Linked DNA regions of Homo sapiens. The protein of the gene in region 2 interacts with the protein of the main gene of each other region in a biochemical or structural test. Each region holds a gene or a part of one and is shown on either strand. Other genes may lie near its edges. The genes, in order: ACACB and HLCS.

Region 1 (16,086 bases), on a different chromosome or scaffold from region 2:
AATGGCAGTCAAAAGAACATTTAATTCACTTTACAAAAGTCTGTCCTAGAACATGGTTGGGAAAGTATTTCCCTAAGTGAACCAATCTGAGGACTGCATTACAGTCAACCACAGTAGTGCACAACTTATCCCAAATATGGCCATATGGCCAGGCGTGGTGGCTCACGCCTATAATCCCAGCACTTTGGAGGTCGAGGCGGGCAGATCACTTGAAGTCAGGAATTCGAGACCAGCCTGGCCAATATGGTGACACCTTGTCTCTATCAAAAATCCAACATGGCCACAGAATGGATTAAACTTGGAGATTCACTCTCCTTTTTAGGTGAGTGAAAAACCAAGATTCAAAGGCTAACACATTTAACATAACACTCAGAGGGGGCTACCCCAACCCAGAATGACATGGGAGAGCAAGGCAAGACCGCCTCCAAATGCCATCTTAATCTACAAATTGATGGCCCAAGCAGCCTGCTTCTGCTTTGACTTAGACCCCCACGGCGCGGGCCAGCCTTACATTTCCAGATCTGGAGTCAGTCACTTCTTTGTAGAGGCTGATGTCCAGGTAGTAGCCCGACTCATTGGTGATGAACAGGCGGATGGGAACGGCACTGCCGGTGGTGGTCTGGCGGATGTTGATCTTGACCTCAGCCTGTAGCACACGGAGTTTCCACAGCCGGCTGCCGTAGCGCATAACCATGTAGCGCACGGACTCCTCGATCTGCCCCAAAACACAGCAATTCCAGTTTCAGGGCCAAGACATCCCAAGGACATTTGCAATAGCACTGATACTAATAAGAGGATGAGATATACTGACTGCAAAAACGCCTGGGACATAGTGTGTATCCAACAAAAAGTATTAACTAATAACAAGCAACGGCTCTTGCTAAGCATTTAAAACTCTACCTCATTTTGCCTTCGTAAGTACTCAAGAGAGGCGAGCTTTTCTAATCCCTCACTGACAGATAAGGAAACTGAGGCTGATAAGTGACTGAACTAGTACTGCTATGTTATACTATCTTTACATGCCTTTGACTCAAGCCATTGCACTGCTTCCTTCTGGAACTACCTGAACTAGTGAGGCCAGAGCCTCCACATGGGTCCCCTGAATCCCCCAGATACCAAACGGATGTATCAGGACTTCTCTTTTTAATAATACTATTGTATTAATTATTTTTAATAATATATATTATTAAATAATAAAATAAAATACATTTATATATTTTAATAATATTAATATATCGATATTAATATTAATTTGATTAATAATCTTAATATTTTATTTTTTAATTTTTAAAATTTTTAGTAGAGATAGGGTCTCTCCATGTTGCCCAGGCTTGTCTCAAATTCCTGGGCTCAAGCAATCTACCCACCTCAGCCTCCCAAAGTACTGGGATTACAAGTGGGGCTTCTTTCATTCCAGAATCACCACCATAAAAGTCTGTCTGCTCGTGAAGAGCCACCTGACAGGGAACATTCAGCCACAGACCTCACGGTCTCACGTCTCTCCCCACCCACATGCAGTCCCCAGCGCAGCCTGGAACCAGGGAAAGGACAAAATTTTGTTTTGAAAGACATTTTGAGCATGCTTGTCATCCTTAAAGTAAAGCATTCCCGTGCAGGGCATGGCTAAAACATAGCTCTAGAATTGAATGGCAGAAGGTTTGCTCTCCTCCCGCAGCAACTGAGGCTCAGATACGCATGGTTTCATCCTGGAACCCAGGTCTTGAGTGGCAAGAGACAATACCCCAAAGCAGCATGGCTCAGAGGGTGAACCCAGAGCCCGGTGAGAGCCCCCCTGCAAAGGCGAGACCTTGAAGGGGTCCATGATGACAGTGGGCACGAAGTTGAGGAAGATGTGGTTGCAGTCGGTGCGCACGCTGGTGTTATTGAACGCCACCTCCAGCTCGTCCATGGCCTCCAGGAGCAGCCGCTCACCCTCGTTCTGCAGGTATTCGAAGGAGGCTTCCTGCCAAAGAGTGGGAGGGGCAGCTGCTCAGGCCAGGGGTGCAGGCCTACTCCCAGCTGGCTGGAAACTCAGCCCCAAAGAGGCAGAGACAGGAGGAAAACATTCCCCTCCTCCAAAAAGTGTGCCAGGCAAGAACAGCAGAGCCCTGCCTCTCAGAGGCGAAGGGACTGCAAAGCTGTTGAGTGTATTGACATGTGTCCTATTTTCTGCATTCTGACACTTTGACACCTGGGGCCTTGCTGACCCTGGATCATACCTGGGGACACAAACCACCTGCTCTAATCACCCAGGGCCAGATTCCTGAGAACCAGAGACAGCTTCTATATGCCAGGGTCTGCTGAGATGATTCACAGCCAATCCTAAACCTGTTTACTCAGCCTCACTTTTTTCTTCTCCAGGAAACCACAATCAAGGCTCTCGTCCACGTCTTCCATGTCTTCCCCTCTGTCCCTCTGCTGCCTGACCAACCCCAGAGCCTCCCCATGTGGCCCCATGGCAGGGAAAACCCCTTCTTCTTGGGAACTATGAGTAATAAACTGTCTTTTTGATGGCAGTTGTCTCCTTATCTGTTGGCCTCACCATACCTCAACAATAATAAAACCTATTAAAACGGCTTGGCCAGGCACAGTGGCTCACGCCTATAATCCCAGCACTTTGGGAGGCCGAGATGGGTGGATCAGTTGTCAGGAGTTCGAGACCAGCCTGGCCAACATGGTGAAACTCCGTCTCTACTAAAAATACAAAAATTAGCTGGGCATGGTGGTGGGCGCCTATAATCCCAGCTACTTAGGAAGCTGACGCAGGAGAATCGCTTGAACCCGGGAGGCAGAGGTGGTAGTGAGCCAAGATCACGCCACTGCACTCCAGCCTGGGTGACAAGAGCAAATCTCTGTATCAAAATAAAAATAAAACATCTAGCTGACAGGTAGCAAAAAAACTGCAGTTAGCTTAATATCCATCAATAGGGCCAGGCGTGGTGGCTCACGCCTGTAATCCCAGCACTTTGGGAGGCCGAAGTGGGCAGATCACCTGAGGTCGGCAGTTTCAGACCAGCCTGACCAACATGGAGAAACCCCATCTCTACTAAAAATACAAAATTAGCTGGGCATGGTGGGGTGTGCCTGTAGTCCTAGCTACTCAGAAGGCTGAGGCAGGAGAATTGTTTGAACCCGGGGGTGCGGAGGTTGCAGTGAACTGAGATTGTGCCATTGCACTCCAGCCTGGGCAACAAGAGCAAAACTCCATCTCCAAAAAAATATATATATATAATAATTATATATACATTTATATAAATATATATTTATATAAATACATATAATATGTATTATATTATGTATATATAATGTTATATAACATATTATATATTATATTATGTATATTATATGTTATATTATATAATATATTATATATATTATTATATATAATTATATATATAATAATATATATATGTTTCCATCAATAGGGGATTAGTAAAAAAAAAAAAAAAATTATACACGGTACATCCATGCAAGGAAATAATATGTGGTGGACCACTCTTTATTAACAATGAAAGAGGTCCACAAGTGACTGACCAATTAAAGAATAATATATTCAAATGATCTGTCCACTCTCAGCTCTTATCTGCAACTTATGCCTACAACTCTAGGTTTCAGGGACGGAATTGTGTCTAGAAACAGTCAACAACTAAGCTGGCCCCTCAGTGACAGGATTCTCGGTCCTTGCGCTAGGTTCTTAAAAATCGTTTTCAGTCTTATTTAAAATTTTCACAATATAATCATGGATTACTTCTGTTTCTTTTTTTCTTTTTTTTTTTTTTTTGTGATAGGGTCTCACTCTATCCCCCAGGCTGAAGTACAAGGGCTCCATCTCAGCTCACTGCAACCTCCGCCTCTCAGGTTCAAGCGATTCTCATGCCTCGGCCTCCTGAGTAGCTGGAATTACAGGTGTACGCCACCACGCCCAGGTAATTTTTGTATTTTTAGTAGACACAGGGTTTCACCATGTTGGCCAGGCTGGTTTTGAACCCCTGACCTCAAGTGATCCGCCCACCTCAGCCTCCCAAAGTACTGGGATTACAGGCATGGGTCACTGCACCCGGCCATGGATTACTTTTCTAAATGCAAGAAACAATGGAAAACGATCACTCAGTCAGCAAATATTAAGAAATTCCCTGAACAAACCAGTATTTTTCTATCCTGGAAATTTTCTTCTCATGCGCAGAGACCCACATAATACAAGAAACAGATCCAAGTGCCACCAGCCTGGACGTGATCACAGGCCACTTTGCTGTCCGCCTCCTGCCCTGGACTGGAGCATAGCAAGGGCAGGACCCTGGGTGTTGGTGTACTCTCCATCCCCAGCATGCAGCCCAGGACCCAGCACAGAGCAGGAATGTAAGGAAGGGAGGGCCAGGTTCTGAGAGAGGAAGAAATGCTCTGCGACATCTTACCTTTGTGATCAGGTCAGAGTGCCTGATGATGGCGCGGATGAAGAACCTATGGTCCGTCACTTCCACACCTTCCTTCACCTTGGCAGCACCCAGGTAAAGGTGCATCTTGTGGTTGGCACAGGGCACGGCGGTCAGATCGAAGTTACGCATCCGGTTAAGTTCCAGCTGGAAGGCCAGGGCAGGTTCCAAGTGACGGTAAATGCGATCTTCTGCAAACTGTAGGCGGACCAGAGAGAGAAGACAGACACATACACACACAGCGTGACGTTGGAGCTGCGTCCCTGCTTGGTCCACACCCTACTCTGCAGACCCCTGGTGTCCATGGGTTTGGCACTCAGGAATGCAGCATTCATGATGTTCCCTAATTGTAAGCTACCCCCAGGGCTCCAGATATTTGGGGTTTTGCTAAGATCTGAGGAGAGCTATGGGCATTGCAAGCCTGTTGTGCTGGGTGCAGCGCTGGCTCCTGGGGGAACCTAGCTAGTCCCTATCACCTGCCAGCGTGACCAGGCTGTTCTCCATCTGTCACAGCCTGTGGCAATTCTCATGAAGCCACTAACCCCTGGTTTCTTGGTGGAAATTGGTCCCCGAAAAGAAAGCAACTGACAGTACTGGAAACTAAACTGAAAAAAAAAATGAAGACATTAAGAAAAGGATGTGTCTTAGCTAGAAAAATAAAGCTTTGGATAAATTAAAATGCAAAATGCTGAATTTGGTGGGGTCTTGAATCAGTGCTGGGAATAAACCTACCTGTTCTACAACAGGGATCGGTAAACGTTTTCTTAAATGGCCAGAGAGTAAATGTTTTAGGCTGATGGATCATACGGGCTCTGTCACAACTACTCAATTCTGCTACTGTTAGAGTGAAAGCCAGAGTAGACAATGTGGAATCCAACGGGTGTGGCTGTGTTCCAATAAAACTTTATTCGTAAAAACAGGCAGCTGGTCTGCAAGTGAGTTTGCCAACCACTGTTCTAGACGAGCATAAGAAAAACAGTTTGGAAAAAATGTCTTACTGAGTACATCAGCAAGTACTGAAAATTATTCAAGCAAGACAGAAACCTGTAGTGAGGCTGAAAGGGCAAGATTCTCAGGTCTGAGTGCCATGCAGGGAACAGAGGGCTCTCAATGGAAATACAATCCCAGAGGAAGACTGCAGTCTACACAAAAGTTGCTACATTCTTGAATATGGGGATGCCTTAAGGACTGCAGACTATATTCTTCATGAATATCAAAGATGCCAGGGAGCTGGGAGGCACGGTGGCATGTGCCTATAGTCCCAGCTATTCGGGAGGCTGAAGCAAGAGAATCGCTTGAGCCATAAGTTCGAGTCCAGCCTGGGCAACATAGTGAGACCCCATCTCTTTTTTTTCCTTTTTTTTGAGACAGAGTCTCACTCTGTCACCCAGGCTAGAGTGCAGTGGAATCACCTTGGCTCACTGAAACCTCTATTTCCCAGGTTCAAGCAATCCTCCCACCTCAGCCTCCCAAGTAGCTGGGACCACAGGCTTGCATCACAATGCCAGGCTGATTTTTTAATTTTTTTGTAGAGACAGGGTCTCACTATATAACCCAGGCTGGTCTAGAACTCCTGAGCTCAAGCAAACCTCCTGCCTCAGCCTCCCAAAGTGCTAGGATTACGGGCTTGAGCCACCACACCCGGCCCCATCCCATCTCTTAAAAAATAAAACAAGATGCTAGAGAAGAGAAAACATCATTACTTTTGGCCATACCTCATCTCTTGCTCTGAATGTGAAAAACTTGGGAAATTCTTTCTGCAAAAAGAAATCCACACACAAGACAATTAAATCAAGCAAGACGCACTGAAATATGTACATCCTTATTTAGTGATTGTAAACGATTACATTCACTTCTAGAATGAATCATTTGGAAATCCTTCTCCTTTCTAATGATCTCTTTCACCCAAATCTACAAAATAAATATCAAATAAATGGCACACACCAAGGCTTGGAGAATGGGAAAGACTCATAGAGATGAACTGTGAACTAACCTCTTGGGCAATCAAGAATGTGATTCGTCGGAGTCCATAATCCACAAGGATATTTTTCTGCATTAAAAACCAAAGACACAATGGAATATTATTTGGCCGTAAAAGGAACTGAAGTATTGCTGCATGTTACCACACGGATGAACCTGTAAACATTATGCTAAGTGGAAGATGTCAATCATAAGAGACCTCCTGTGATCTGATTCCATTTATATGAAACGTCCAGAATAGGCAAATCTATATAGAGAGAAAGTAGATTAGTGGTTGCCTAGGGCTGTGGTGGGGAGAGGGTTTTTGGGTTGGGGACAGAGGGGAGTGACTGCTAACAGGTACAGGGTTTTTCTATGGAGTGATGAGAATGTCCTAAAATTGATTCTGGTGATGGTTGTACAACCTGGTGAATATACTAAAAATATATTAAATTGTACACTTTTTTTCTTATTTCTTCTAAAAAAAAAAACAGGATACATGTGCAGAACGTGCAGGCTTGTTACACAGGTATATATGTGCCATGGTGGTTTGCTGCACCTACCGACCTGTCCTCTAAGTTCCCTCCCCTCGGCCCCCACCCCCCGACAGGCCCCGGTGTGCGTTGTTACCCTCCCTCTGCCCATGTGTTCTCAATGTTCAGCTCCCACTTATGAGTGAGCACATGCGGTGTTTGGTTTTCTGTTCTTGTGTTAGTTTGCTGAGGATGATGGCTTCCAGCTTCATCCATGTCCCCGCAAAGGACATGATCTCATTCTTTTTTATGGCTGCAAAACTGCACACTTTAAATGGGTGAATTGTGTAGTATGTCAATGATGTCTCAATAAAGCTGTTATTAAAAAGATAATTAAAAAATATCACATTGTATACTGTAAATATATATAATTTTTTTTGAGACAGGGTCTCGCTCTGTCCCCCAGGCTGAAATACAATGGCATCACAGGCTTACAGAGCAACCTGCTGTTATTGGCACACTTGGTCATCAATGTAAGTAGCCATTTTAAAACTGCCAGTTTCTGGATTATTCCAACAAAAACACTCCCAGAAAATCTCCAAACTATTTATTGGGTGTGCCCTCCGTACCTGGGACTGGCTAAGCCGTGTATATACTTTGTCATTGAATCATTGCAACACCGTGAGCGAGAGAAATGCTGACCCCACGTTCAGCCACATCTGCCCAAGGTCGCCAGCTATGAGGCGAGCAGAGCTAGAGTGGGAAGCCAGGTCTGTGGCTCTGAAGTACTCAGCACGCCTGCCTCCCCAAGGGCCGCCTCGACGAGCCCAGCCCCTCCTCCTTCTCCAAGAACCCCCACCAAAACCAGAGGCACGCCCAGAGTACCTTGGACTGTACGAATGTCCGTAAAATCGGCACCAGTGCCTCATCCTCCAGGTGGTCTGCACACTGGATGGACACATTCAGAATGTGGATGGGCTCTTCTCTGAGGCTCTGAGAGGGAGAAGCAAGGGGTAGGGCTGGAAAGCCTGGGGGCCACGGCCCACCTGCTCCCCAGGTTGCTCCCTGGGCTTAGACGCTTACCTTGCAGTCATCCTCGGAGTATAGGGAGGTGCGGGCCTCGCTGAAGAGGGGGGTGTCTTTGGGCACGTTGGCGAAGCAAGAGATGACTTCATCAAAATTTCTGGGGGTGCGGGTAGAGAGGGAGGGCTGAGGGGCTGCTGACCCATGGGGATGAGGTCAAGCTTCCAAGCCAGGCAGCAGGGAACGCCAGACCCTCCCAATTTCCCAGCCAACACCCTTTGATCTTATCCAACTCTACAGAGCTCAGGAGGTTCCCTGTCTACTTTGTCCAGAGCACCCGTGATGGGGTCCTTCCCAAAAGGGAAGAATGAACCTAAGTGATCTGTGATCAGGAATACAGGGAAGGATTCCAGCGCTTTCAGGCATCAGCTGGGCTTGAGATCAACTCTTGGCTCCCATTTTTACTGGCTGGGAGATCCTAGAAACCTCACCTCACCCCGAGTCAAAGAAAGGTAATAAGAGTAATCCCTATGCCTCATGAGGCTGTTGTGAAAATTCCACAAGATACTCCAAGCACAAAGCAGAACACACAGTGAAAGGCTGAAAAAAGACTATAACAGTAACTATTGAGAGCTAACATTTAGTCACTATATTATCTGCATACTAATTATACTTTAAATATGTTATTTCACATATGTTATCTCATTTAATTCTCATGGCGCACCTATGAAGTGAGTCCTTTATTATTCCCATTTTACAGATAAGAAAACGAAGGTATGGAGAGGTAAAAATATTTTGCTCAGTCTCTTAGTTAGAAAGCACATAGCCAGAATTCAAACCAGGCAAGCTGACACGCAGGCTCACACTCTTGGCTACGATGCTCTTATTATTCTGTTGTTATTGATGTGCTGTGCCAGGCAAGCTGACATGTAGGCTCATACTCTTGGCTACAATGCTATTATTATTCTGTTGTTATTGACATGCTGTGCCACGTGTCTGGGTCTCTCCCACCCCATCTGTCCAGTGAATTGGGGGGGGATTCAAGGGAAGTCTGCCCAGCCCCCATGCTCAGGGTGTTGGAGACCGGGCCATGCTGGGTACCTGGTGAAGTCCTCGAATCTCCTGAAGGCTACCATGGCTCCCATGCGCTGGCACAGTGGGGAGAAGCCGCTGTCCATGAAGAGCTCTGTGCTGTGCCTCAGCAGGTCAGGGTTGGTGATGCTGATGGGCACGGTCATCCTGTAAGGTGATGGCAAGTCGGGGATGAGGCAGCTGCTTGCAGACCCAACTCTACGAGCTGCTCCTACTCCTGAAGCTTCAGTGAGCTGGACCAGATTTAGAGCTCTTCCAAATGGGGGCTTAAAATGGGCAGGGGATGAGACAATGGCTGGGGCCGGGGCCTGAGGAGGGTCTCATCTGATCCCTCAGGACCTGGTGAAGAGTAAGAGCTCAACAAGTGTAGGAATCAATGATTCATGCATGAGAGTCCAGTCTCAACACAGTCCCGAGGGGAGCCCCAAGTGCTGAACTTGACCACAGAGAAGAAACACTCCCAGCATCAATTTCTCCTGGAGAAATCCACCAGCCCCAGGCAGCTGGTGAGGCAGTCAGGCTTGGTCCTGACGGACACTCCAGTCCTCTGCTCCCTGTAATCCCTCCATCAAACTTGCCCTTGGGACAAAGTCAGCAGCCTTCTGGAGTTTAGACAACGATGCTCCCAGAACTGGCTGCTCACCAGCAGCAAATCTCAATGGGCCACCTGAGGTTGTTAGAATTGGGCCTTGGAATCAGATACGGGAGGGGTAATGAAATGGTGTGCAGGAAGTCAGCACAGCAGGCCCCACACTGCTCTTCTGAGAAAGGAGACCTGCTTGCTTGCAAGGACAGCCCTTGGCTGGCCTCTGGGAACTTGGACTTGGGGAAGGTTCCTATCGTTCCCTGAAGGTGACAAGGGGGGCTCACTGTGCCTCAACTGTTTGCACAAACAGTGTGGTTTATGCTGAACACCTGCTTTCTTCTGCAAGCCTGAGATTTCGATGCAGAGCAGAGGGTGATGTGACCAGCCACCAATCCCTGGTGCGGGGCTGGAAGACAACCCTTCACTTGTGTTGTCACAACTCCTTGCTGGGGGAATGAAGTGCACCCTGCGTGAATCCACTGGGAGAGGACCCTGGCAGCACACCTGCTTTCCTCTGGACTTCACCCTGATGCCTTCTGCCTTGGCTAACTGCTTTGTATCCTTGCCCCCTAATAAGTCAGAGCTATAAGCATGACTATGTCCCGAGACCTGTGAGTTCTCCTAGGCGATGATCGAACCTGGGGGTGCTTTTGGGGACCCTGACACAGGTGTGTGCATTCCTGTTGGGTGCTCTGAAATCACGATCATGGCCCCTCTGCTCCCCGACAGCTCAATCCAGGGGTCACAAACTTGCAGTGGCAGTGTGGCTGAATGCCACTCACAGAATGACTTTGGTCCATGCAGCATTTTAATAACATACATGAATTAACATGTGTTCATGTATTCATTTAACATGAATTACCTGTCCCCATTGAAAAATGGAAGGACTTCAGGTTAAAAAAAAATAGATTTCCTGCTTCTGCTGGAAAAAATCATGGAGAAGTCTGGTTGTGATGGTCAGTTTCCTGCAGGGCAACAGTGGGCAGAGCTAGGACAGCAGCCCCATCGCAGGGGGATGTAGCCAGTTCCCACCCAGCACAGAGGTCCAGGTCCAGGCTGCAGCTGGCACAAAGCCCTGCCAACTTCTCATCTGACCTTCCCTTGGGTCTCGGTGACCTAAAGCACCATGTGCCTGGCTCTACACACACAAGTGTTGAGGGCCAAGCCAGGCCATCTTGGGGATAGACTTTATTCCTCATGGCCCTTTACAGAGGCATTAAAGGGCTGGTTGGTGGGGGCAGCCGCAGGCAAGGTCTCTTCACAGGCCCAGAGTACATTTCTGGCACTGAGAGCAATCATGAGAATCTTAGATGGCCAGGAATCCCCCAGGGTCCTCAATGTCTCTCTGGGTCAAAAAAGGACCCTGTGCCCATACTGAAAATCACAACCAATAACCTGGATATACGTGTAGCTCACAAGGCATGACCCACAGCCCTCAGGAGAGCCGCCCTTCCCTTCCTAACAGGGCTGACTTGCTGGGACAATAAGATCAAAAGAGAAGGCCAGGCACAGGGGCTCGCGCCTATAATATCAGCACTTTGGGAGGCCGAGGCAGGAGGATCACTTGAACCCAGGAGTTCAAGACCAACCTGGGCCACATAGTGAGACCCCCATCTCTGCAAAAAAATATTTTTAAAGAATTAGCCAGGTGTGGTGGCGCAAGCCTGTGGTCCCAGCTACACAGGGAGCTGAGGTGGGAGGATCACATGAGCCCAGGAGTTCAAGGCTGTAGTGAGCTATGATCACACCACTGCACTCTAGCCTGGGTGACAGAACTAGACTCTGTCTCTAAACAACCAAACAAAAAAATCAAAAGAGTCCTTCTCAGGAGTAGACAGCTACAAAATATCTTACACCACCACTGCTCTCCAAATCCCCAGAATGACCCCAGGCTGCAAGCAGTCAGTCCCCTTTCTCTCAATGGGGTAAAATGTCACAATCCTATTTTTGGAAATAAGAAGGGTAAAAACAAATAACTAGGAAAGGCAGTGCCTCGTGGGGAAGCCCCCTTTTCTTCATCCAAAACATAGCAGCATCTTTCTTCTTAAAACCAACAGGAAAAGAAAGTTATTTTAAAAATCCTAAGAGGCCAGAAAAATCCCCGCTTCACCAAAGCATGAACCCTATTGCCTGTACAGATCTGATCAACCGAACTCCCAAATCACAATGACATCAATGCCGCCGTAGGTAAGGCCTTGGGCACCCCCATAAGAACTAAAACCAGAGGGGTGAGGGAGCGTGAGAGAGAACACTTCGAATCCCAAGGAGACATAATTACTTTAAGAGAAGGTATCCCACTCTACCTGACCTAAATGGTATTAATACTTTGGGTCCTGAAACAAGATGGACTGAAAAAAAGACTGTGAGTGAGGAACTCAGACACATCAGATATTTTTAGGTGAGCCAGGCATGGTGGCGCCTGTCATCCCATCACTTTGGGAGGCTGAGGTGGACAGATCATTTGAGGTTAGGAGTTCCAGACCAACCTGGTCAATGCAGTGAAACCCCATCTCTACTAAAATTACAAAAAAAAGTAGTGGGGCTTGGTGGTGCATGACTGTGGTCCCAGCTACTCAGGAGGCTGAGGCAGGAGAATCGCTTGAACCCAGGAGGCGGAGGCTGCAGTGAGCTGAGATCGCGCCGTTGCACTCCAGCCTGGGTGACAGAGTGAGACTCCATCTCAAAAAAATCAAAAAAAGATATTCTCAGGTGAGAACACTGAGGGTATCTACTGAACTACAGCTCTTGGACAGCAGACTACAGTGGACACAGACAGGACAGGTGCCCTCACACCTGGCTCAGAGGGCCCCTGAATGCTGTGGAAAGGACTTGGAGGTGAGAGTGTGGCCTGGGCTCAAATTCCCACTCCACGTGCACAAGCAGCTCAGCCTAGGTCAGGTGAGGGCCCAGGGCTCCCATCTGTAAAACGAGGATGAGAACACATTTTTGGCCGATAGAGGATAAGAGCTGAATAAAATAAGAGTGTGGGCTGGGCACGGTGGCTCACGCCTGTAATCCCAGCACTTTGGGAGGCCAAGGCGGGTGGATCATCTGAGGTCAGGCATTCAAGATCAGCCTGGCTGACATGATGAAACCCCATCTCTACTAAAAATATAAAAATTAGCCGAGCATGGTGGTGTGCGCCTGTAGTCCCAGCTACTCGGGAGGCTGAGGCAGGAGAATCGCTTGAATCTGGGAGCTGAGATTGTGCCACTGGCACTCCAGCCTGGGCAACAGAGCGAGACTCCATCTCAAAAAAAATAAATAAATAAAAGAGTGTGGGAGCACTGAGCAGAGTGCCCAGGCCAATGGCATGCCACTAGATGGTAATAACAGCGTTAGTCATGATCATCTCCGGGATCACTTACAGTCAACAACTTCCTTTGTGCCAGGCACTGTCTAAAATGCTACATGTGCCTTATCTCATGACTCTTCCCAATGGCTTGGGTGGCATTGTCTACTAGAACTTTCTACCATGACAGAATGTTCTAGAACTCCACTGTCAAATAATATGGCAGCCATGAGCCACCCAGTATGACTGAGAAGCTGAATTTTTTTTTTTTTTTTTTTTGAGACAGAGTTTCGCTCTGTCACCCAGGCTGGAGTGCAGTGGCACAATCTTGGCTCACTGCAACCTCTGCCTCCCAGGTTTAAGAGATTCTCATCCCTCAGCCTCCCGAGTAACCTGGGATTACAGGGGTGTGCCACCACGCCTGGCAAATTTTTATATTTTTAGTAGAGATGGGGTTTCACCAAGTTGGCCGGGCTGGTGTCAAACTCCAGGCCTCAAGTTCCTGATCTGCCCCCTTCAGCCCTCCGAAGTGCTAGGATTACAGGTGTGGGCCACCATGGCTGGCTCATTTGCATTCTTTGTTTTTTCTCTTTTTTTTTTTTGAGATGGACTCTTGCTCTGTCACCCAGGCTGGCGTGTAGTGGTGCAATCTCAGCTCACTGCAACCTCTGCCTCCCGGGTTCGAGCAGTTCTCCCTCAGCCTCCCGGGTACCTGGGATTACCAGTGCACACCACCATGCCAGGCTAATTTTTGTATTTTTTTTAGTAGAGATAGGGTTTCACCATGTTGGCCAGGCTGGTCTCGAACCCCTGACCTTGTGATCCACCCACCTCAGCCTCCCAAAGTGCTGAGATTACAGGTGTGAGCCACTACTGTGTTTGGCCTCTTTTTTTTTTTTTTTTTGAGACGGAGTCTCGCTTCTTCGCCCAGGCTGGAGTGCAGTGGGGCAATCTCAGCTCACTGACTCACTCTGCCTCCCGGGTTCAAGTGATCCTCCTGCCTCAGCCTCCCCAGTAGCTGGGATTACAGGCATGTGCCACCACGCCCGGCTAATTTTTGTATTTTTAGTAGAGATGGGGTTTCACCATGTTGGCCAGGCTGGTCTGGAACTCCTGACCTCAAGTGATCTGCCCGCCTCGGCCCCCCAAAGTGCTGGGATTACAGGCATGAGCCACCGCGCCTGGCCCATGTGCATTCATTTTAATGTAAATAGGCACACATGGCTACTGTACTGAACAGTGCAGGTGTAGGAGGTGGGCTCTGCATTATCACCATGTTAGAGGGGAGAAAATGGCGCTGCAGGGAGCTCCCACAGGGGAAGTGCTTATCGCTGATGTCTCCCCAGCAGCGTGCCCAAACACACTTGCCAGGTCCTTCCAGAGACAGGACGACAGAGGTCAGGAAGAACAGAAACACAGGCCGTCCCTGGGTGTGTCCCACTCCATACCGGTTTGGGTGGGAGGACGGCAGCATGAACTGGAATTCTACCACGCAGGTGCCGTCCGGGAGCTGCCGGTGCTGCAGGCTGTTTAACTCATAGGCGATGTAGCCCCTCCGCACGTAAACCTGACAAGGCAGAAACACACGGACATTCTCTCAGGGGCCACTGCAGAGTGTGCTCAAAAGCTGAGGGCACTCACGGGGAACAGGTACCAGAAATGACCTCTAAAATATCTATCTGTAAGCAGGCCGGGTGCAGTGGCTCAGGCCTGCAATCCAGCATTTTGGAAGGCCAGGGCAGGTAGGTCACTCGAACCCAGGAGTTCGAGACCAGTCTGGGCAACATGGCAAATCCCCATGTCTACTAAAAATACAAAAACTAGCCAGGCATGGTGGCAGGCGCCTGTAGTCCCAGCTACTCGGGAGGCTGAGGTGGGAGGATTGCTTGAGCACAGGATGTTGAGGCTGCAATGAGCTATGATAGCACCACTGCACTTCAGCCTGGGCAACAGAGAAAAATCCTTCCTCAATTAAAAAAAAAAAAAGATTTCTAAGCAGCAGTTAAGAGCAAATTTGCTCATATTTCAGAGTGTTACTAGTTACACAAAATCCACTCTAAACTCTAGAGCAGGGGTTGATAAACTTCTGTAAGAGATAGGTAGTAAATATTTTAGGCTTTGTGGGACATATCATCTTGGCTGCAACTACTCAATTCTGCTGTTAGCACGGACGTAGCTGTGGACAACATGTAAATGAATGGGTGTGGCTGCATTCTTCTTTTTTTTTTTTTTTTTTTTGAGATGGAGTTTTGTTCTTGTTGCCCAGGCTGGAGTGCAATGGCATGATCTCAGCTCACCACAACCTCCTCCTCCCAGGTTCAAGCGATTCTCCTGCCTCAGCCTCCTGAGTAGCTGGGATTACAGGCATGCACCACCATGCCTGGCTAATTTTGTATTTTTAGTAGAGACGGGGTTTCTCCATGTTGGTCAGTCTGGTCTCAAACTCCCGACCTCAGGTGATCCGCCCGCCTTGGCCTCCCAAAGTGCTGGGATTACAGGCATGAGCCACCGTACCTGGCCGCGTTCTGATAAAACTTTACAGAAACAGGTGGTGGGCCAAATATGGTCCATGGTCTATAGTTTATCAAACCCTGCTTTAGAGCAGTGCTGTCCAACAGAAATATAACACAAGCTGTGTATGTAACTTTATTTTATTTATTTACTTTTGAGACAGGGTCTCACTCCATCACCCAGGCTGGAGTACAGTGGTGAGATCATAACCCACTGCAGCCTTGAACTCCTGAGCTCAAAGGATCCTCCCACTTCAGCCTCCCAAGTAGCTGGGACTACAGGCACCACCACACCTGGCTAATTTTTTTTGTTTTTTATATTTAGTAAAGAAAGGATCTTCCTATGTTGCCCAGGCTGGTCTGCAACTCCTGAGTTCAGTGATTCTCCCACCTCAGCCTCCTAAAGAGCTGGGATTACAGGCATGAGCCACCTCACCTGGCCTATAATTTTAAATTTTCTAGTAACCACTTAGAAAAAAGATAAAAAATAATTTTAATAATATATTTTATTTCACCCCACATATGCAAATATTATCATTTCAACATGTAATCAATATAAGAAATTATTGAGATGGTTTACATTCTTTTCTCCATACAGTACTACATCTTTGGAATGGAGTGTGTATTTTCCACTTAGAGCACAGCTCGATTTAGACTGGATGCAGTTCAAGTGCTCACTAACCACACGTGGCTGGTGGCTGCCATAGTGGACAATGCAGTT
Region 2 (16,086 bases):
GCTACTCTGGAGGCTGAGATAGGAGGATCACTTGAACCCGGGAGGTGGAGGTTGCAGTGAGCTAAGATCACATCACTGCACTCCAGCCTGGGTAACAGAGTGAGACTGTCTCAAAAAAAAAAAAGAAAAAGAAAAAGGATGATGTGCCTCAGAAAAGCAGCACACCAGCCCCTGCTTAAGAAGACAGCTCTTGGAAGTTCCTCCACGCCTCTCTCGAGGCAGGTAGGGCTCTGCTCCTTCTGGGCCTCATCCTGCTTTTTCTGCAAATCCTAGGAATCTCTTGCTCTGTATTGTGACTTGAGGCTGAGATAACATTTCTTCCCAAATCTGAGAAGAGAGATAGATTACGGGAGAATGCCGCCTTTCTGGAAATCACTAGGACATGTTTTTTCAGAAGTAGCTAACTTAGAAAAGACCACATTGGTGACCAGGGCCAGGACCCCTGCCTTTTGACCTGGCCTGTCCCAGGAGCCACGGATCCCTTAGATTTGCATCTGCCATACCCGTGAACATCTTGGGCCCCTCATATAACCAAGGAAGGGATCTCCAGAACATCCAAGCAAAGGAAGACAAAGCAAAGGGTTTTGATAACAGCTGAAAGTATTACCCACTTGAGATTGACTTGAATTTGTGTGTCGGAAGCTGGCTAATGCTGTCACATGGTATTTGACTTTTACCACTATTTTAAAAGTGAAAGAGGTTAACAATCTCCTTATCACACACTTGATAAAAAGTGGACCAAAGGTGCTAATTTGAGGCAATTTGCGATCAGCTTCCTAGTCTTTTTGGTATTAAAGGAAGACAAATTTTGCCATATAGTGTTTAAAAACAAACAAACAAACAAAGACAAAAAAAACCCACAAGCCAGGGAGCTACTTAATGTCAGGCATCGGACTGAGTAGATGGGAGTGGTTATTTTTCATTATGACACGGCGAAACCGATCGGGGTGGTTACCACCCCTCTCCACTAAGGGACGGGCAGAAGAAATCAGAGCAGACGGGGGCCCTCCAACACCAGGGCCCCTGGTGGCCTCTAGACCTCTGCCGTCCAATCAGGTAGCCACCAACCCCGTGTGGTCTTGAACATGGAAATGTGGCCAGTGCAGTGAGGCAGGTGTGACCTGCGCTCTGCATCTCAGGACCAAAAAAAAAAAAAAGAAAATATCCCAATAATTGTTTCACACGGATTCCATTGAGAGAGTATTTTGGATATGCTGCATTAACGTGTATTACTTAACAGGCATTCCACCTGTTTCCCTGCTTTGTAACGCGGCTCCTGGAACATTTCAGGTCGCGTCCTGAGATTGGACAGCACGGCCTAGACTAAGGCGGGGGAGGGCGACAGCGACCCCGCGGGTGCAGCGCGTGGGCGGCCGAGGGGTGGTGGCTGCGCCCGGGGCTTGGGGGTGGGGTGGCTGCGGCCGCGCCCCTTGCTGCCCTCTAACGTGTCGCCTGTCCCCGCAGCGCCCGCCGCCGCCGTGCGCAGGTTCGGCGAGGACACCGCGCCCCCGAGCTTCCCGAGCTGCGGCCACTACCGCGAGGAGCCCGCGCTGGGCCCGGCCAAAGCCGCCCGCCAGGCCGCCCGGGACGGGGCGCGGCTGGCGCTGGCCCGCGCGGCACCCGAGTGCTGCGCGCCCCCGACCCCCGAGGCCCCGGGCGCGCCGGCGCAGCTGCCCTTCGTGCTGCTCAACTACCACCGCGTGCTGGCCCGGCGCGGACCGCTGGGGGGCGCCGCACCCGCCGCCTCCGGCCTGGCCTGCGCTCCCGGCGGCCCCGAGGCGGCGACCGGCGCGCTGCGGCTCCGGCACCCGAGCCCCGCCGCCACCTCCCCGCCCGGCGCGCCCCTGCCGCACTACCTGGGCGCCTCGGTCATCATCACCAACGGGAGGTGACCCGCTGGCCGCCCGCGCCAGGAGCCTGGACCCGGCCTCCCGGGGCTGCGGCGCCACCGAGCCCGGCAAATGCGCACGACCTACATTAATTTATGCAGAGACAGCTGTTTGAATTGGACCCCGCCGCCGACTTGCGGATTTCCACCGCGGAGGCCCCGCGCGCCGGTGCCGAGGGCCGAGGAGCGCCCGGGTCCGGGCAGGTGACCGCCCGCCTCTGTCCTGCGAGGGCCGGTGCGACCCAGTTGCTGGGGGCTTGGTTTCCTCACCTTGAAATCGGGCTTCACGCGTCTTGCCTTGTCCCCAACGTTCCACAACAGTCCCGCTGGGGGATTGAAGCGGTTTCACTCCGCAAATATCCTCCACTTTCAGGAGGGAAAACCCACCCTACCACAGTCCGCTCTTCCAAGTGGACGGCAGACCTGGGAGGGGACGCCTGTGTCACGAGCCCTTTTAGATGCTTAGGTGAAGGCAGAAGTGATGATTGTAAGTCCCATGAATACACAACTCCACTGTCTTTAAAAGTCATTCAAGAGTCTCATTATTTTTGTTTTTATTTAACCCTTTCTTCAATACAAAAAGCCAACAAACCAAGACTAAGGGGGTGACCATGCAATTCCATTTTGTGTCTGTGAACATAGGTGTGCTTCCCAAATACATTAACAAGCTCTTACTTCCCCCTAACCCCTATGAACTCTTGATAACACCAAGAGTAGCACCTTCAGAATATATTGAATAGGCATTAAATGCAAAAATATATATGTAGCCAGACAGTTTATGAGAATGACCCTGTCAAGCTTCATTATTACGTGGCAAAATCCCTCTGGCCCACACAGATCTGTAATTCACTAGGCTCGTGTTTGCTACAAATAGTGCTAATAAAGTTAAATTGCACGTGCAATACGGAACACTGTCAATGGACTGCACCTTGTGAAGGAAAAACATGCTTAAGGGGGTGTAATGAAAATGATGTAGACATTTTAAGCATTTTCTACACAGCGAGAAAACTTCGTAAGAACATGTTACGTGTGCAACAGGTAAACAGAAATCCTTTCATAAAGCACCAGCAGTGTTTAAAAAATGAGCTTCCATTAATTTTTACTTTTTATGGGTTTTGCTTAAAGATCTCAACATGGAAAAATCCTGTCATGGCTCTGAACTGCACAATGCATTGAACCGCCGTCCTTCAATTTTCTTCACACTATCAACACTGCAGCATTTTGCTGCTTTATCAAAATGGTTTATTTTAGGAAACTTTTTCCACCTTTCTGAATGGAAAGAGGTTTTCACAAATGTTTTAAACTCATCGTTCTAAAATCAAGTGCACCTACACCAACTGCTCTCAAAATGTGAACTGACTTTTTTTTTTTTTTTTTTGCCAACCCTGTGTCACTTAGTGAGGACCTGACACAATCCCTACAGGGTGTCTGTCAGTGGGCCTCATGGTAAGAGTCACAATTTGCAAATTTAGGACCGTGGGTCATGCAGCGAAGGGGCTGGATGGTAGGAAGGGATGTGCCCGCCTCTCCACGCACTCAGCTATACCTCATTCACAGCTCCTTGTGAGTGTGTGCACAGGAAATAAGCCGAGGGTATTATTTTTTTATGTTCATGAGTCTTGTAATTAAACCGTGATTCTTGAAAGGTGTAGGTTTGATTACTAGGAGATACCACCGACATTTTTCAATAAAGTACTGCAAAATGCTTTTGTGTCTACCTTGTTATTAACTTTTGGGGCTGTATTTAGTAAAAATAAATCAAGGCTATCGGAGCAGTTCAATAACAAAGGTTACTGTTGAGAAAAAAGACCCTATCATAGATTTACAAGTGACAACGTGGACAGGCGTAACAGAGTGTGTATGTACTTGAAAATGTGTACTAGTGAAAACGTCCTTGTCTAAACAAACTTCGTTTTCATAACCTAGAACATGAAGGAAGATTCTTACACGAGCTGGCTTCAGGACGGCCAGGGCTGAGTGTGAAGTCAGCAGAGCTGTTACTGTGGCAACCTAATATTGTGACCTCCATCTTGAAGAGTCTGCACATTTAAGCTGGGGATAGCGTTTCTTGACTTCTGTGAGGCTCCGGCAGGGGAAGAGGAAGCATTTTAATACATATGCCTCTCTTTTACAAAAAAGAAAAAAAAATCATCGTAGGCCCTAACATGTACCATGTTGACAAAAATGCCAGATCAAATGGATTTGAGAAATAAGCCCAATTCAAGGCTGGCTCAGCCCTCCACGGGGCCTCCCAGGGAAAGGAATTCCTTTATGTTCTTGGAAGCCCTTTTCTAGAAAAGCCATTCCATTCATACCTTTGTAGAGCAGTGGGCTGGGTGTGGAGGGCAGCGCGGAGGGTATCTGCAAGAGCCTGTATTTTCCGCCTCCCTTGCCCCCACTCCTTTTATCCTTTTAAAAGTCCTATCAGCCCTGCCTTCGTCCCTTCCGCCCTAAGCCCTAAGAGTGGGGGAGGTTTAATACGGCCAATGGATCTTGTATAAAGTCTACGTAAGTTTTAATTTACCAGAGCTATAAGATGGTTAAGGTAGACTAGTGGGGACTGCTACAGATAAAATGAGATACAAAGAACATTTGCAAATAAATGCCATAAAATTACAGTAGCTTGGAATTTTAGTGAATCATGGCCCTTGTGTTATCTAGAATGCTAATTATTCAAGCTGTTCCTAAACTTAAGTATGACATATAAGATTAAAATCTTGGGGGGAAAAACTGTTCAGATGAAAAGTCAAGTCAAGAAGTTTCCACAAAAGAAAAGAAAAATCCTAAAAACAATCTAGCTGTTGTTACATTAAATTTATTTCTCACCTCCATTAAAAGGGTTTTTGCTTTGGAGTTTTGTTAACTTTCGTTCTTTGGAGTAATAATATTTCTCTTGTGTATGGCGCTGAATACATTTGTCAATAATACGTCAAAAAAAAAAACACTTGGCTTCTTAATACTTGGAAATACGTACATATTCCTTACTATGTAAAACACTTTATTTATTTTGTAAAAATGTTTAAATATGAATAAAAATACTGTAACCCAAAGTAGTTGCCTACTTTTAAAAATGAAACTTGTAAAAATAAGAGGGAGCCCAAACCACATAGAAAGTCTTAGTTTATTTTGGTAGACTTGCTTTTTATAGGCATTGGTTTAAAGTGATTCTTTTCAGAGACATCCTTTGAGAAGTTAAAATTGCAGAGGCTTACGCTTTCTTTTATTTCAAATATGCATAGTGATTAACCAGGAATAAGGATTCTCCCATGTTCTGCCTGTTAAGAGCAAACAGATCTGGAGAACGGAAGCCCACCCTGCCTCCCTTTTCCATCTGAAGCAGTGCGGGGAGGCTGGCTCCTCTCTTTGTTCCCAGACTCCAGGGCAAGGGGCGACCATGCTGTATATGCTGTGCCTTGGGGGACCCCCAGAGGCTGCGCTCTGTGGCCTGTGCTCCCCCGACCTGTGCACCCGCACCCCAGTCGGCCACTTGCTCTCACATCAGGCAACGTCAGCCTGCTGCAGTGAAACTCAACCACGATTTTCCTTTGCACACAAATCCTTCCTACTTCCACCACTCCCTAGCAGAGTTCCCAGTGCCAGAGAGCACTGCTGGGGTGGGGGTGGGGACAGGAAGCCCAGTTATTGCTGTGTTCTATTTTAGGGGGCACTTCCTCAAGAGTCCCCTTGAAACCCGTTACCAGCCTGGAAGGGAGGATATCTTGCCTTTTACAAAATACGGTCGATACTCAATGCACAGCCTCTAAAACAAGGGCTACTCCAGTGTTCTAAAAGCACACGCCAATCCTGAGTTTAGTGACCACATTTTAAAGATCATCAGGAAAATGCCAAGTTCCCATTAAGACTTTAAAGCTCCTTGAGATCCCAGGTTGCGGGGTGCATAAATGGCCCAAATCGGAGAGTGTGCTATAGCAGGTAGACAGGTTTCGCTAACACGAACAGCTATCAGTAAAATGCCTTTATTCAGCTAATTCTATAGAAGCGGAGTTTTGAGAGTCTTTGGTTCATGTGAGGCAAAATCAGGTTTATGGAAAACGCAGCATCTGCTTCAAGGCTGCTTCATCTCTCTCAGGACAACTGAGTCTCCTGCGTGAGGGAGGAGCGCCTGCTGGAAAGCACAGAGCACAGCAGTATGCCCGGAACATCTCCATAGCCTTTGACAAGGCCACACTTCATTAGTTTTAATTTGCAGAAAGGAAATTAAATGATAACATTTTTTCCCAAAGCAGAGTGTCCAGAATAGGACTTCAGCTTAAAACAAAACATAGCATGTTTTTCATTAAATAACCCCCAAAGAAATTCAAAAAGTGATGATGGCAGCTCTGAGAGAGGGCTTGCCTTATATTACAAAGTCTGAGAAATGAAACCTACATCGTTAGCCTCGAGATCTTTGTCCCTGATGATATTCTGCAGATGCCCTCTCAAGGGTAAGTCCATTTTGTAATTTGGGGATGGTGTGGACTTGTATTTTACTTAAGTTTCTAACTAATTTTGAAAGAAGGCTTGGGCATTTGGAGAAGAGTGGTTTTTTTTGTGTTTTTTGTTTGTTTGTTTTTTGAGAAAAATAATTCTAATTGAAGCCTCATTTCCAAAAATTACTTTTTAAGTTCTTTTAATGTTTCATTTCCAAAAAATATATATTGGGTATTTTTTCATAGGGCTGTCCTGTGCCTGGCTAAAGGTAGACAGACTATACTAAAAACCACAAGTTTCTGGAATTAGCCTGACTGGGTAAGACCTGGATAAAGATGGTGCTAGTTTACAATGAAGGGATTTTGTTCAAAGCTGAAAGCTCCATCAAACTTTCTTTCCACTAATTTCAGCTGGGACTGGAAGAGAGAAAACTGGACAAAAATTGGCCTTTTAAAAAGCTGAAAAGTAATGAGTATGATTCATAAGTTCAACAGAGATAGGAGGGACATGGAAAAGGCATGGCGTACATCTGGGAATAGCGAATGCATATCAAAAGGCTTCATTTCTTTTGTTCTTTCATGAGGCTTGTAGCACATCAAATTTTGAATGTCTTCTTTTAAAGCTATGTGCGCACACACGCACGCACACACATATGCGGGCACACACACACATCCTCCCTCTGAACTGATGGTGTTTAGTATCGATAACATTTTCTTTCTTGGTAATACGAGGTAAATGAGGGGGGCAAAAACTTATGACTTCTGAGTAAAATGCCATGTCTTCTATATTCCGTGAGCTGCACAGTCTTGCAGGAATGCTCCACATTTCAGAGTAAATCTGAAACTGGCTTAAAAGCTCCAAATCCTCCCTTGTATGTGGTATGAGTGTGCCTTCATCTCCAGCTGTCAGAGCCAAATCGCCCACCTCCTCATCCAAGTGATGCCTAATCAGACATTTAAGGATTCTGAACTTGATCCTGTCTCTTCACAATATGTAGTAAATTTAAACTTACTTAAGAAAGTCAGTCCCTAACTAAGGACATTTAAACTTCCTTAGGAAAGGAGAGCTCACTGAATGATGTCAAAGTAATGAACTGATTTCCTCTACAAGGTCACTGCAACCACACCAGCTAGCTCTATCTCTACAGGCATTTAGACTTCGCTATGGGGCCACACCACCGGGTGGACAGTAACTCTTGGAAGTCTGTCTTCCCTTTTCTTCATTAATAAAAACACAGAACAATGACTAAGTGTCCAAGCATGTTCTTACAGTTCAGTACCTCCCCAGATGCTTACAAACAGTGATAGCATACCTCTAACTCACCACTGGCCTGGGCGCAAGAGCATATTTTGGTTTGTTTTTTCATAGACTAGGGGTAAAGGTCTGCACTACTAAGAAAATATCTGAATTTTCCCATTGTCATTTCCATGTAAAAACTCCCCTTGACAATAAACGTAAGTCCAAGCCACAGAGGGGAGAGCAATTTCCCACCTGTGGGAGGGCTTTCCCTAAACTAAATTTTCTACTTCTTAACCATCTATCCCAGAGCCTCTTCAAACACCAAAGAAAACGACAACAAAACAAACCTAAAAACAAACAGAAACACAGAAAAAGAACAAAGACTTAACAAATGAATTGGAGGAAAAGAAAATTCACCTACAACTCTAAATTAGATTTCCAGATGCATGGGCACGGACAGGCAGCCGCGTCTCGGGGACGCCCGGCATTACCGCCGTTTGGGGAGGATGAGGTTTCTCAGCATGTCGAAGGAGTTGCCGTCCGGGTGCACAGTCACAACCTCGCCGCCCTCCTGGTGAACCTGGAGGAAGCCAGAATCGTCCAGGCCAACGATGGACACCTTTGGTCCCTCTGCGCTGCCCAGATGGACTTGCTGACCACTGAAAAGGAAGAACAGCGTGCGGTCACTGGGAGGTGTCACAGGACGACTTAAGACAATGAGCTGAAGAATAATCCATGATGAGAGAGCTGGGCGTGCTGGGGAGAGGGCTGAGGCTCGCTGCAGGGAAAAGGCAGCCTGGGCTGAGCTCTGACTTTCTTCCACCCTGGTGAATGGTTTTAAGAACTGCTCAAATAACCAGCAGGATGCAAGTTCAACAAGGAGTCGAAATTTCTTCACACAACGTCACTCCTCCTAATTCTGGTCATCTGCGGTGATGGCTGGAACCACTTCCTCACCTCCCAGCGCTTTTAAGAAACACTGTGCAACTCTAGGTTTTTTGGCTGAGATTGGAGGAAAATAGGCCGAGTTGGCAAACAATGTTTTATCTTATAAAACAAAGTTGGCTCATATCAGCCACAAGTGAAACTCATCCTGATCCTACTTCTTTTGAATATTTTCCAAATGTACTCAAGTCACGTCCTTCTTAACAGCTTTCGAAGTATAGAATTTTCTCAAGTTTTTATTTTGAAGAATTTTAAATCTAAAGAAAAGCTGAAAGAATAGTGCAACAAACCTCATATTCTCTTCCATTCTCACACCAAATGAAAATATTTTCTGTATTTGCTTTCTTTCTTCACACATAAACACACACAAGCACACATTTTTTTTTCCTGCAACATATAAAGATAAGTTGCAGCTGGGTGTGGTAGCTCATGTTTGTAACCTTAGCACTTTGGGAGGCCAAGGTGGGAGGATTGCTTGAGGCCAGGAGTTCAAGACCAGCCTGGGCAATATAGTGAGACCCTGCCTCTACAAAAAAATTTTTTTTTAAATTAGCGGGCCGTGTGGCACACTCCTATTGTCTCAGCTACTTGGGAGGCTGAGGCAGGAGGATCATTTGAGCCCGGGAGTTCAAGGTTTCAGTAGTGAGCTATGATGGCACCACTGCACTCCAGTGACAGAGCAAGACCCTCTCTAAAAAAAAAAAAAGTGAAAATAAAAAAAGTTTTTTAAAAGCTGCAGGCATTGTGACACTTTCTGCTTAAATACTTTATCTCCTGAGAACAAGAACCTCCCATAAAATTATAATAGCATTAACTATGACCACTCAAGAAAGTCTGGATACAAACGGTCCATGTTCACGTCATTCCCACTGTCCTTTTAATATCCTTTGTGGCTATTTCCCTCCATCCAGGATCACACACATTACATTTAGATGTCATGCCTCTTTCGTCTTCTCTAATCCCAAACAATTCTGCCACCTTCTTTTGGTCTAATTGTTTGTGCGCAGACCTGACATTTTTGCAGGGCACAGGCCTGTTGTTGTGGAATCAGTGAGCGGTCCTCGGACTTCAGCTGCATGAGAATCCCTGGAGTATCTGTTATGACACAGGGTGCTGGGCCCAGCCCAGGGGTTTCTGATGCAGTAGCCCCTGGTTGAGGCTGAGGCTGCTTCCTGGGATCTCACTTTGAGAACCACTGTTACCTGGAAGGTTTGACAATTTAGATGCGTCTATTGTTTCCTCACAATTAGAATCAGATTAAACCAATGTTAAACTCTCTCACTATTTCGGTTCTTCCCATCGCATCCCACCAGGAGGCATAAGATGCCCGTTTGCTCCATTACTTGTGATGCTAACTTGGTCAAGGTGGTGTCCCTGCAGTTTCTCTAACAGAGACACAGAAAATAATCATTCAGACCAGTGCTCGGTCCCTCATTTTAAGATACTGAACTACGGCCGGGCGCGGTGGCTCACACCTGTAATCCCAGCACTTTGGGAGGCCAAGGCGGGCAGATCACAAGGTCAGGAGATCGAGACCATCCTGGCTAACACGGTGAAACCCCACCTCCACTAAAAATACAAAAAATTAGCCGGGTGTGGCGGCGGGCACCTGTAGTCCCAGCTACTCAGGTGACTGAGACGAGAGACTGAGGCAGGAGAATGGCGTGAACCCGGGAGGCGGAGCTTGCAGTGAGCCAAGATCGTGCCACTGCACTCCAGCCTGGGCGACAGAGTGAGACTCCGTCTCAAAAAAAAAAAAAAAAAAAAAAAAAAAAGATACAGAACTACTAAGATACTAATAAAGGAGTTGAAAAGAATGAAGATGAGCCAGCACTGACCTGTGGACCCAGTATCGGTAATAAAGGGGAAGGACGCTGTTGGGCCCTTTGTCCTGAAACTCTTTGATCAGTTTCTCCAGCACAGTCACGACTCTGGCGATGAGATAATCGGCTCTTAAGGGCTTCAGTTCTGCCTTGTGTTGTTTATTGTATTCTGTGATGAGGTCGTTGATGCAGATGGTAGGGTTACTGTTAGTCACATTAAATCCACAGCCTGGACAAAAACAAACAATTGAGCAGCTCAGCCTGTTGATGGCATCACACATTCCTCTCTGCCACATGGAAAAAGTTACAGTCTTGACTGTCAACTTCCTCCTTCCTTGTCCTCATTTCAGATTTCGTGTCTCTAACCACTTGAAGAGTGACATGTATTTCTGTCCATCTTCCTTTTTGTCCTTCTTTTATTATTCTTGTTCAAGCTAAAACCATCTCAACCTTACTGCAAATAAAAAGGTGGGAAAAAAGAAAGCCACATTTGATTCAATTTAATTCAATAGAAGCTATTAAATATGGGACAAAACGTATCAGTGTTGCCTCTGAAATAAGTGGTCTACCAAGCATTGTAGCTCTGCACTGAGTCCAGGAGAGAATAAAATCTCTGGTTTCTTCTCCTGCTTGAATAACAGATCCCACGCTTGAAAATAGAGTTTTATTCAGGACTTGGGAAGTAAACTCTGGACTCAGAGATTTCAAACCTTGGTCATGGCATAACCCTAGAAATGCATCTTTTAATACTTTATTCTTGGAAGTCTTTGGTGCTAAGGTTACGCTGTTGGCAAGACGCCGACTCATGTTCAGTGGCTTTTTGCAGGGTCCTAAACCAAGGCTTCATGAGAGTTACCAGGGATGGTGTCTGAATAGGCTTATCTGTGCAGTTACTTAACACCACTATCCTCTCCAGGCAGAGGGCGGTGTCTTCAGAAAAGCTGGACTTCAGTGTTCAGCAGGGCCCTGAATCGGCCTGCGAGAGGTCTTCAGTAAGAAATGAAATACTGCAAAAACTAAGCAGTAAGAAAACTACCATGTTTTCAGTGACTTTAAGAAAAAAAATCCCCAAAACATTCGCCACAGGCAGAACAATGCCATTTGTAACAACAGCCTTCCCGGCAAGTGTCCTGCCGTTTCCAGTGTGAAGGGAAGGATTGACTGGTCTCAGATTTTAAAACAATATACTGGCTATTAAAATACAAAGCAATTGTCAATTACCTCTGGAAAAAAAACAAGTAACTACAGCAACAGGGGCAGGACTTGCAGTTGCTCACGTATTCATTCATTCAATACATACAGGATCTGAAGCACCTACTGAACGTTCGTAAGGCATTAAATCAAGTGCTGTACAGCACTGAAAATTCTCCCGTGTTCAGAAAACTGGAATTCCTAGGAGGAGTAGCAACACTCACTACTGGCCACTTAGGCTATGTCCTTCTAAGGACCGGTGAGCACCCTGCTGGCTGCTCTGAATCCCCAAAGTCAGAGACCCCATCCTATGGCCTTCAGAATTCAATAAAAGCTATGGGTTCTCACCATAGGAAAATGTTTCATTCCCCTACTTTATTTTTTATTTTTATTTATTTATTTTTTGGAGACGGGGTCTCACTCCAGTTGCCCAGACTGGAGTGCAGTGGAGCCCTCATAGCGCACTGCAGCCTCAACCTCCTGAGCTCAGGTGATTTTCCCATCTCAGCCTCCTGAGTAGCTAGGACTACAGGCAGGCACCACCACGCCCAGCTAATTTTTTGTATTTTTAGTGGAGACAGGGTTTCGCCATGTCACTCAGGCTGGTCTCGATCTCCTGGACTCAAGCAATCCACCCACCTCAGGCTCCTGAAGTGCTGGGATTACAGGCATTGAGCCACCACACCTGGCCTATTTTTTATGTTTTATTTTTGAAACAGGGTCTCACTCTGTCATCCAGAATGGAGTGGAGTGGCTCGATCAAAGCTCACTGTAGCCTTGAACTCCTGGGCTCAAGTGATCTACCTGCCTCAGTCTCGCAAGTAGCTGGGATTATGAGCTCAAGCCACTACGCCTGGCCTTCGCTTACCCCACGCTGATAACATTTGTTAGCTCCCTGAAGCCATCCATGAGCCTGCTTGTGGCCCCTACCTAGGAATCTCTGCATCAACTGCAATTACTCACTTAAAGATAGGAAATGGGGGAGACTGGGCAAGTGGCTCACGTCTGTAATGCCAGCACTCTGGGAGGCCGAGGCGGGCGGATCATGAGTTCAGGAGTTTGATACCAGCCTGGCCAACATAGTGAAACCCTGTGTCTACTAAAAATACAAAAAAATTAGCTGGGTGTGGTGGCGGGCACCTGTTCTCCCAGCTACTTGGGAGGCTGAGGCAAGGAGAATCACTTGAACCTGGGAGGCGGAGGCTGCAGTGAGCCGAGATTGCACCACTGCATTCCAGCCCGGGCAACAGTGCTGGACTCCATTTCAAAAAAAAAAAAAGATAGGAAATGGAGCTTTAAGGGTATGAAGTAGCTTGCCTAGAATAATATTGCCCCTTGGTGGCAGAGCTGGTAACACAGGCCTTGTATTCCCTGGCTGGCACTTGAAACACATGGTTACATGTTTTTTGACCATTGCTGGTTTCTGAACACAGATTAGGTTCTACTGCCACAGAGTGAGGCTGATGACTGGACGGCCAGGAACCTAAGGACTTCTGAGATTGCCTCTGAATCCATCTTCTTGCCTGATTTGGATGTGCTAAGGTGAAACAGGGATTCTTTACCCCGCCTTGACCAGCATGGAGCTTCTTCTGAAGGTTAAAATGATGCCAGCTCTTTCATGGCCCAGGAAGGTCACGATAAGAATGCAAGACACCAGGAGAACTATTTAGGAAATTAACTTTTCTTTTTCTTATTACAGAATAGAACGTTAAATGTTTATTTTCACCATTTCAAATTCAATGAGTAGCAGGAGTGTGGAAGGATGTAGGAACATACCTGTTTGATGTGATACCACTTTGGTGGTTCCCGTGGTCACACACAGAAAATGCTAAACCCTGTGAAGTGCTTTCGACCAATCTCTCTGCATCTATACCCTGCTCCAAAACTACAAGACTCAAAGTAACCTCATATGATAATCTGCTCCTGCCAATGTAGGCATGCATAAACCGTCTTTATTTTTATTGTTTTATTAATCTAAAAATGCTGGGGGAAAGGTTTTTGAAACTTACCAATAAGTATATAAAATGTTTCTCCCATGAGTGTTGAGTTAACCAGAACTCCGCCGATCTTCATGAGGTCACTGTAATAAATATCGTTGGGCCACTTCACTCGTAAGTTGATATCCTAAAGGGAAATCTGCACATTAATTAAGCCGTCACAGGACACAAGGGGCCCAGGCAAGTCACTGAGCTAAGGGAAGATAAGCAGAAACCAAGGTAACATGGGCCTCGTCCTCTCCTCTTTTTCAGGCAGCTAATCACTTCTTTGGGACAATCCGATATTGAAGTGCCTCTTGGGGCCAGGAGGTAAAAGCCCTGAAGAACACAGTTGACATAAACCCCAGCATTCTTCCCCATCCCCCAGCACTGTTTCTCATCATCCAAAACCCTTTCTGAAGATGCTTACCTTGTAAATGAAGTTCATTATGTCAGTATCCACCACCACCACCACCATGGAGTAGCTAACTAACGTGCTAGGGCCAGAGGGTGGGGAGAGAATAGTAATCTCAGGGGGCGTCTCCCTTCAGGAACCCATGCTTGAGAGACAAAGATGGCCCTGAATTAACCAAGGTCACAAAAGGCAGGTAGAAATGTCTTGAGTAGCAGGCAGTGGCCAGGCGCGCTGGCTCACACCTGTAATCCCAGCACTTTGGGAGGCTGAGGCGGGCGGATCACAAGGTCAGGAGTTCGAGACCAGTCTGGCCAACATAGTGAAACCCCATCTCTGCTAAAAATACAAAAAATTAGCTGGGTGTGGTGGTGTGCATCTGTAATCCCAGCTACTTGAGAGGCTGAGGCAGGAGAATTGTGCGAACCCGGGAGGCGGAGGTTGCAGCGAGCCGAGATCGTGCCACTGCACTCCAGCCCAGGTGACAGGGCGAGACTCTGTCTCAAAAAAAAAAAAAAAAGAATGCTGTGAAGATGCAGAGGAGAAATTCACCTTAGCGAAAGCCTCGCAGAACTGCTAATGGTCATCTTGGGTAATGGAACTGGACTTGTCATGTGGCCTATTGCCTCTGCGTCTTGAATGGTGTGGCCTGGGGGTGGGGGGGCTCTCCCTGTCATCAGCTTACAGAATGGACCAACACTGGACAGTGTCTCGAACAAGGCCACCCAGGCCTCTGCCTATCCACTGTGACTCTGAAGTTGGGACACAGAGACGGGGCTAGCCGAGTGGGTGTCAGAACCACCAGGTCTTTTAGACCTCGGGCTGGCAGCCAGGCTGTGCCATGTGTGGGTAAAGGAAGCCTGTCTGGAGATGCAAGGCTGGAAGAGAACATTCAGCAAAATAAAGCTAAGGGAGCAGAGAGTAGCTGATGGCCTCCAAGGGCCACGGGGCTGGTCTTCCCACGTTGCAGGCCGGGCATGGCACCAAGCACCTTCTCAGCATTAGTCTACGTGTTACTCACACCCAGCCTATGTGTTGGTGCTAGCGCATCCCCAGGGAACAGAGGGAGAAACGGAAGCTTAGAGAAATTATGTGGCTTGCCTGAGGTTATAGCACTTGAAAGCCACGGAGCTAAAATTCAAACCTTTCTGCCACCAGGCCTGGGTGAGGAATCCTATGCTACGCGGCCTGTTGCTTCCATGAAATCCCTTCCTCCTTCCAACAGGCCTTCTTTTGACTTCGGCCCGTTAGAGCATATTGGAAGCTCATCTGCCCTAAAACAGTAGTTTAGGCTGAGAGAAAAAATACAGGAATAGGAGCACAGGAGAACAAAAAGTCTAAGTAAACCAAGCATGGGGGGTGCGCAATGACCCAGAACTGATCAACAGCTTCACGTTTCTTTTCTCTCTAGAACGGGGGTTCTCAGTGGGAGAGGGGTGGATTTGGCGATACTGGGAGACTTCCCTGGTTGTCACAGCCTGAGGGAGTGCTACCGGCGTCTAGAGAGTAGAGGCCGCAATGCTGACACACATCCTTTAAGGCACAGGACATCCCCACGACAAACATGCCAGGGCCCACATATCAATAGCACTGGGCTGAGAAAGTCTCCTCTAGGAAACCTGTGTCTAGGAGGCTCTGCTCTTCATCACTGCCCCCAGTTCCCTTTCCTTCCCCTCTCTCGCCTTCCCACATCCCCCTGTGCCCACCACATGGCCAGGGGAATGAGCCCCTGCCTCGCCGGCGGGAGGACACCTGCAGAGTTCCCAGAGCTGTCAAGCTCCTCCGCCACGTGCGTGGCAGCTGGTGCCTGGGCGGGCCCTGCACTTGGGCTCCAGCTCGCCTTCATGGCTTCAGATCTCCTCGGCTCATGAAGCAGCTCATGAAACTCTGGGTTCTCACGCAGGTAAACAGGACCAGCATTTCCACATGAAGAGGAGGACTGTGTGCTCATTTTTCATTTTCTCAATCATTTATTCCAACAGCTGCTGTGATCCTCCCACATAAAAAAAGACCAAAATGAAACAAATCCTGCTTTTGAAGAGCTGCTAACATCATGGGAGACGGAACAGGTGCACACATCACTCCTCTTCAAAGCCACACGTGGTGGATACCCTAAAAGAGGCTTCAACATGGCAAGTGCTGGACAGTGCTGGAGGAAAGAGCTGGAAGTAGCTGGAGGGT

The links.
Region 1: the proteins of HLCS (region 2) and ACACB are reported together in a solved structure, tested with the Homo sapiens proteins (one study listed by BioGRID and IntAct).

The regions. Positions count from the first base shown.
Region 1 is NC_000012.12:109,225,707-109,241,792, reverse strand, and holds part of ACACB (acetyl-CoA carboxylase 2), read right to left. Parts: intron 14,423-16,086; coding exon 14,304-14,422; intron 9,125-14,303; coding exon 8,987-9,124; intron 8,046-8,986; coding exon 7,946-8,045; intron 7,856-7,945; coding exon 7,748-7,855; intron 6,481-7,747; coding exon 6,424-6,480; intron 6,188-6,423; coding exon 6,146-6,187; intron 4,629-6,145; coding exon 4,413-4,628; intron 1,964-4,412; coding exon 1,808-1,963; intron 716-1,807; coding exon 512-715; intron 1-511. UniProt on the Homo sapiens protein: Mitochondrial enzyme that catalyzes the carboxylation of acetyl-CoA to malonyl-CoA and plays a central role in fatty acid metabolism.
Region 2 is NC_000021.9:36,746,201-36,762,286, forward strand, and holds the end of HLCS (biotin--protein ligase), read right to left. Parts: intron 13,642-16,086; coding exon 13,527-13,641; intron 10,781-13,526; coding exon of another isoform or gene 10,761-10,780; exon of another isoform or gene 10,556-10,760; coding exon 10,342-10,555; intron 8,218-10,341; coding exon 8,046-8,217; 3' UTR 2,426-8,045; downstream 1-2,425. Other genes in the region: SIM2 (single-minded homolog 2 long isoform), read left to right, coding at 1,465-1,892. UniProt on the Homo sapiens protein: Biotin--protein ligase catalyzing the biotinylation of the 4 biotin-dependent carboxylases acetyl-CoA-carboxylase, pyruvate carboxylase, propionyl-CoA carboxylase, and methylcrotonyl-CoA carboxylase.